2 linked regions of the Homo sapiens genome follow. The protein of the gene in region 2 purifies or fractionates together with the protein of the main gene of each other region. This does not show direct contact. Each region holds a gene or a part of one and is shown on either strand. Other genes may lie near its edges.

What was found. The genes of interacting proteins can lie anywhere in the genome.
Region 1: the proteins of PSMD5 (region 2) and PAAF1 purify together in Homo sapiens (affinity purification with mass spectrometry; 2 studies listed by BioGRID and IntAct, with this or other methods). This does not show direct contact.

Annotation. Positions count from the first base shown.
Region 1 is NC_000011.10:73,911,382-73,915,034, reverse strand, and holds part of PAAF1 (proteasomal ATPase-associated factor 1), read right to left. Parts: intron 623-3,653; coding exon 531-622; intron 1-530. UniProt on the Homo sapiens protein: Inhibits proteasome 26S assembly and proteolytic activity by impairing the association of the 19S regulatory complex with the 20S core.
Region 2 is NC_000009.12:120,822,348-120,826,000, forward strand, and holds part of PSMD5 (26S proteasome non-ATPase regulatory subunit 5), read right to left. Parts: intron 2,339-3,653; coding exon 2,147-2,338; intron 1-2,146. UniProt on the Homo sapiens protein: Acts as a chaperone during the assembly of the 26S proteasome, specifically of the base subcomplex of the PA700/19S regulatory complex (RC).

The DNA of each region.
Region 1 (3,653 bases), on a different chromosome or scaffold from region 2:
TGCAAGTGCTGCACAAGAACTGGGATTCAGGGCTGGGCTCAGTGGCTCACATCTGTACTCCCAGTACTTTGGGAGATTGAGGCAGGCGGATCACTTGAGTCAGGAGTTTGAGACTAGTCTGGCCAACATGGTGAAACCCCGTCTCTACTGAAAATACAAAAATTAGCCAGGCATGGTGGTGGGCTTGTAATCCCAGCTACTCAGGAGGCTGATGCAGGAGAATCACTTGAACCTAGGAGGTGGAGGTTGCAGTGAGCTGAACCGAGATTGCGCCACTGCACTCCATCCAACCTGGGCGACAGAGTGAGACTCTGTCTCCAAAAAAAAAAAAAAAAAAGAACTGGGATTTAAATGTTGCCCTTATTCCAAATCCCACAACTCTTAATCATTACACTGTACTGCCTCTTACTCACGCAGCCTTCTCAAAAGTGAACACAGGGAGCAAGTAGAAATGTTTCCAAAATAGCTTTCTAAGACACAGAGTGACCCAGGTTGCCTCAGAGTTCAAAGGTCATATAGGAACCACTTGCCAGCTGCCTGCTCTGTAGTCCCAAGCACTGAAGTTTCTTATCTTCCCGGGCCAAGAGCAGCATTTTGGCCTCTGTTCCAACCTCCCGTTCACCTGCATGACAAATAAACTATGTTAATAACAGTGAGGCTGATCAGCTGGTAGTGCCCACACAGCACCAATACTGATGGTTGATTACTGATTTTGTTAGCGATTCACTTATTACAAAGAAAACATTTATTATGTTCTGTATCTCACTGTGGTATTATTTATACAACTGGATATATTTGTCAAAACTCACAGAACTATACAATTAAAAATACTGACTTTACTTTTACATTTTAAAAATGTTTTTTAATGGTATCCAGTAGCCAAGGAAAAGGGTGACTTTTACCATATGTAAAAGATACCTCAGTAAATCCAAATTTATTTTTAAAATGTGCCTGTGTGTGTGTGTACTTTTTTTTGAGACAGAGTCTAGTATGTTGTCCAGGCTGGAGTGCAGGGGCCATTCACAAGCACAAACATAGCACCCCACAGTCTTGAATCCCTGGGTGCAAGCAATCCTCCCACCTCAGCCTCCTGAGTAGCTGGGACTACAGGTGTGCACACCATGGCTGGCAATAAGCCCAACTTTTAAAATATTAAGTTGTTTGTACCATGATAAGACACCACACTAGGAGTTGGGATACAATACTGCAAAAAACAGTCTCTGACCTCAAAGATCTTACAGCCTAGAGAAAATGAAATTTATTCATTTACTCACCAAATATTTCTTTAGGGCCTACTATGTATCAGGCACTATTCTTTTTTTCTTTTTTTTTTTCTTTTTTTACCCTCATCTTCTATGTGATGACATCACACACTATTCTAACTGCTAAGGAAATAGTGATGAACAAACAGATAAGGTCCTCACTCTCAAGGATTCTAGTGAATAGGTAAATAAACAAGTAGGATACTTTCAGAAAGTGATGAGTTCTAAAATAAAATAAAATAGGAAAATAAGATCAGAAGTGAATAGATGGTGGAAGGCTAGATGGGGAGGGTAACTTTAAATGTAAACTTCAACTTTATTTATTTTTTAAAATATTTTTTATAGAGATGGGATCTCACTATATTGCCCAGGCTAGTCTTGAACTCCTGGGCTCGAGCAATTCGCCCACCTCAGCCTCCCAAAGTGCTGGGATTATGGGCGTGAGCTACCACGTCCAGCCTAAACTTTAACTTTAAAAAGCCTCTGTGGAAGTCACTTTTCAACTGAATGGCAAGACCTGAATGGTGAACAGAAACCAGTCATGTGAAGACCTGCAGGAGTATATTCCAGACCAAGGGAAAAAGAAGGCAAAGTCAGGCCAGGTGCGGTGGCTCACGCCTGTAATCCCAGAATTTTGGGAGCCCAAGGCAGGTAGATCACTTGAGGTGAAGAGTTTAAGACCAGCCTGGCCAACATGGCAAAACCCCATCTCTACTAAAAATACAAAAAATAGCCAGGCATGGTAGTGCACGCCTGTAATCCCAGTTACTCGGGAGGCTGAGGCGGGAGAATTGCTTGAACCTAGGAGGTGGAGGTTGCAGTGAGCCGAGAACGTGCCACTGCATTCAGCCTGGCAAAAGAGGGAAACTCCATCTCAATTTAAAAAAAAGAAGGCAAAGTCCAGGAGACTGGGAGAGTCTACTGTACTGAAAGAAGAAACTGAAGGCCTGTGGCTGAAATGTAGTGAACATGGCAGAGGGTGGTATGACATGAGACTGGAGAGAAGTGTAGGGGTCAGAAAGTATAAGAGCTTGTTGTAAACCATGCTAAGGGGTTAGGATTTCAACATATTTATAAAGGGAGGCCACTGGAGAGTTTTAAGCAGGAATGTGACATGACTTATGATTTTCTTAAATGACCACAAGATTGCTCTGAAAAGAATGGCTTATAGGAGAATAGTCTAGGCAGTAGTACAGGCAATAGATGATGATAGTTTGGACCAGATGTTGACAGGAGGAAGGGAGAGAGGGGGAGGGAGAGGGAGAAATAGAAAAATTAGAAACACTTTGAAGTTAGAGATGATAGACTTTGCTGATGTGGGACATGAGGAAAGAGAGGGTGGACTGTGAGTGAATCTCAGGCTTTGGGCTTGAGCAAATGGGTAGATAGCGGTGCCATCTTCTGAGATGGAAAAAAACAGTTTGGGGTGGGGAGGGATCAAACACTCCTTGTTAGACAAGGTAAGTTCAACTTATTTATTAGACATCGAAATAGAGTCTGAAACTCAGGTGAAAGGTCTATGCTTTACATGAACTTTGGAATGATAGCTATAGAACAGATGAGGTCACAAAGGAAGAAACTGTAGTTATAGCTGAGGGCCCAGAACTTAATAGTGGGGCCCTCTAGTATTTAAAGGTAGAAGAGAGGAGTTTCATAAAAGGAGACCTTTAAGAAGTAGCAGTCAATGAAATAGGAAGAAAACCAGTGTTATGTGGTATCACAGAAGCCATGAAAAAAAAAAGTTTTTTGAGGAGAGGGTTTACTATGTGAAATACCACTGAATTCAGAAAGACAAGCACAGAGAAACAAGGTGGATTAGGCAAGAAGAAGGTCACTGGTGGCTGGGGCCCATAGCTCACACCTGTAAGCCCAGCACTTTGGGAGGCTTAGGAGGGTGGATCACTTGAGGCCAGAAGTTCATGACCAGCCTGGCCAACATGGTGAAACCTCATCTGTACTACAAATACAAAAATTAGCCAGGCATGGTGGTGGGCACCCGTAATCCCAGCTACTCGGGAGGCTGAGGCACAAGAATCACTCGAACACTTGAACCTGGGAGGTGGAGGCTGCAGTGAGCCAAGAGATCGCACCACTGCACTCCAGCCTGGGCAACAGAGTGAGACTCCATCTCAAAAAAAAAAAAAAAAAAAGGAAGGTCACTGGTGACTTTAACAACAGCCATTTCAGTCAAGTACTTGGGCACAAACCATCCTAGAATGGGTTGAAGAGTAAATGGGAAATGAAAAATTACAGAAAACAAGAAAAAATATTCTCATTTAAATTACTTTAGGGCCAGGAGCTGTGGCTCATGCTTGTAATCCTAGCACTTTGGGAGGCTAAGATGGGAGAATCACTTGAGGCCATGAGTTCAACACCAGCCTGGGCAACATA
Region 2 (3,653 bases):
TAATTTGTATGACCTTAGAAATTTTCTTAACTCCTCTAAGTTTCATCTACCTTATCTGGAAAATGAAAATGACAATGTATGTTCTTTGCAGGACTGTAAAACGATTGTCATAGGTAAAAGCACTTAGAAAACGACATATAACAAAAATATTAGCTGTGATACACAACAGCGTATTAATTTTCTTTTTTTCTTTTTCTATTTTCTAATTTTTATTTTTTTGAGATGGAGTCTTGCTGTGTCACCCAGGCTGGAGTGCAATGGCGCAATCTCGACTCACGGCCCAGGTTCAAGCGATTCTCCTGCCTCAACCTCCCGAGTAGCTGGGATTACAGGCGCCTGCCATCACACCTAGCTAATTTTTGTATTTTTAGTAGAGACCATGTTGGCCAGGCTGGTCTCGAACTCTTGACCTCAGGTAATCTACCCACCTTGGCCTCCCAAAGTGTTGGGATTACAGGCATGAGCCACCTCGCCTGGCCTCTTTTTAAATTTTTTTTTTGAGATGGGGTCTCACTCTGTCACCTAGGCTGCAGTGCAACTGAGTGATCAAGGCTCACTACAGCCTTCACCTCCTGGGCTCAAATGATTCTCCCACCTCAGCCTCCCGAGTGGCTGGGACTATAGGCATGCACCACCACAGCTGGCTAATTTTTTTTGTTGTTGTTGTTGACGAAGCTGGTCTTGAATTCCTGGGCTCAAACGATCCTCCCGCCTTGGCCTCCTGAAGTGCTGGGATTACAGGTGAGATAATTTTCAACATATGTGTCTCAAGAATTTTAATAATTGGGCTGCATATTATTTTGTGTGTAAAATTTGTTGTGCTGTTGATCCTCATGGATGTTCCATAAAAGTATCTTTCTTTCTTTCTTTTTTTTTTTTTTTACAGAGTCTCGCACTGTCGCCCAGGCTGGAGTGCAGTGGTGTGATCTCGGCTCACTGCAACCTTTACCTCCTGTGTTCATGCCATTCTCCTGCCTCAGCCTCCCGAGTAGCTGGGACTGCAGGCATGCACCACCACGCTTGGCTGATTTTTGTACTTTTAGTAGAGACAGGGTTTCACCATGTTGGCCAGGCTGGTCTCGAGCTCCTGACCTCAAGTGATCCACCTGCTTTGGCCTCCCAAAATGCTGGGATTACAGGCATGAGCCACCATACCTGGCCTCTTTTTTTTTTTTTTTTTTTGAGATAGAATTTCACTCTGTCACCCAGGCTGGAGTGTAGTGGCATGATCTCAGCTCACTGCAACCTCCACCTGCCAGGTTCAAGAGATTCTCCTTCCTCAGCTTCTCAAGTAGCTGGGACTACAGTTGTGCAGTACCATGCCTGGTTAATTTTTGTATTCTTGAGTAGAGATAGGATTTTGCCATGTTGCCCAGCCTGGTCTTGAACTCCTGAGCTCAGGCAACCCACCCACCTTAGCCTCCCAAAGTGCTGGATTACAGGCATGAACCATTGTATCTCTTAACATGCCAAAAGTATCTCTTAACATGAAATCTTATAACAAACTTTTATTTTCCTTTCTCAAAATTTCATAAATATTCACAACAACCCTGAGAAGCAGTTGTTATGCCATTTTTATAAATGAAGAAAATGAGGCCTAGAAAAGTGAAGTGAGTAAATGAAGTTCAAAAAGCAAAGTCAGGGCTGGATACAATGGTGTGGACCTGTAGACCCAGCCAATCAAGAGGATGAGGCAGGAGGATTGCTTGAGCCCGGGAGTTCGGGGCCAGCCTGGGTAACAGAGAGACACTCTCAATCTCTTAAAAAAAAAAAAAAAAAAAAAAAGAATAGAAAACCCAAGGACATGAATCCAGACCTTTCTGACTCTAGCCCGTGGTCTTTGTACCATGAAATCTAGTCAAAGAAGACATCATAGAGGGGAAACAGGAAACAATGTTTGGTTGAAATCGATTGGTAGAAACCTAAACCAATGAAAACCTAAACCAGTGAAAAGTCAAAAAAAAAAAAAAAAAGGTTTTCCGTAATAATTATTAGATTTTCAGACATGAGTACAAGGTCATGGTTAACAAGACTGCCACCCATAAAATAGTTTCTACAATGTAGTTAACCCACCAGCAAATGAACTTACATATTGAACCCCTGTCAAAGATTAAGATATCCCTGAACAGGGCCAAGTCATACCAACCTGTTTTCTGTAAAACCTGTTTTCCTTCAACATTGGATCCCAAGATTCCAACTGTGTCTACAGCTACACCAATCATAGTGGGGTCCTGACTTTCTATCATTTCAAAGACTTTTTCCACAAAGATAGGATAACGCTCACAGATCTGTTGAGGACTATCCATGACAGCCAGGTTTCCAAAAAACTTCACGAATCCTAAAGAGATTTACAAAAATATATTTTAATAGGGGAACAAGACAGCATGAATTGCGGGCTCTATGACTTCACAGGAACAGAAATGAACTGCAGGCCAGAAAAGCATAGAAAGGTTAGAGTAGTGTGTTGCCTGGAGATCAGAGAGACCATTAGGAGATTCTGAAGGACCTGTGATGTGTGATCCTGAGAGAGGGCGTCAATGGAGCTGGGACCAGCTATTGAAGTACTGGCATATGCAAGAGGGAGAACAAAGAAAAAGGACCAGTGGATACAAATTACAGGAAGGCAAGTTTAGACTCATTACCAGGAAGAAATTTTTAAATGGATATGTTCATTAATAAAATAAGCTAGGCTACCTAAGGCAGGCATACATCTCCAATTTCTGGAAGTGTTCAAGAAAGACTAATCAACCAAAACCCAGAATAGAATGGCAAGAGTAGATCCTACAACAGATAAAGACTCCCACTCAGAGATGTGATTAATCTGTGAAACATACTGTAAATGTCATTACTAGTATTTTTATTTATGTTTTTGTTGATATTCAAAAAGAAAAATATCCTAATGTTCTAAATAGCACTGATGTTTCCAGAAAACCAAAGTCAACAGTACGTAGCTCCAAGAGCAACAGATTCCACCTCAATAAGAGGCTATAGGTATCTTTTTAAAAAAATTAACTTTTAACTGACAAAAAATCATATATCTTTATTGTGAACAATGTATTCTGAAATATGTATATTTAAAAATTATTTTTTCTGCTTTCGTGAAAAATGTCATTAAATTTAAAAATTTTGGAGGGAATGCACTGAATCTATATAGTGCTTTGGGCAGCATGAACATTTTAATAATATTAATCCTTCCAATCCATGAACATAGGATACCTTTCCATTTATTTGTGTCTTCTTCAATTTCCTTCATCAGTTTTTATAGTTTTCAGTGTACAGATCTTTCACCTCCTTAAATTTATTCATAAATATTTAATTTTTTTTGAATGCTATTGTAAATGGGAATGTATCTTTGATTACTTTTTCAGAGTTCACTGTTAGTGTATAGAAATGCTACGGATTTTTATGCACTGATTTTGTATCCTGCAGCTTTATTGAATTTATTTATTCATTCTAACAGTTTTTTGGTGGAAACTTTATTCTATATATTAATAAAACATTACATCACTTGCAAACAGGGAAATTTTCACTTCTTTCTTTCCGATTTGGATGCCTTTTATTTATTTATCTTGCCTAATTGCTCTGGCTATAACTTCTTGTACTTTGCTGAATAGAAGTGGTAATTGTGGGCATCCTTGTCCTGATCTTTTTTT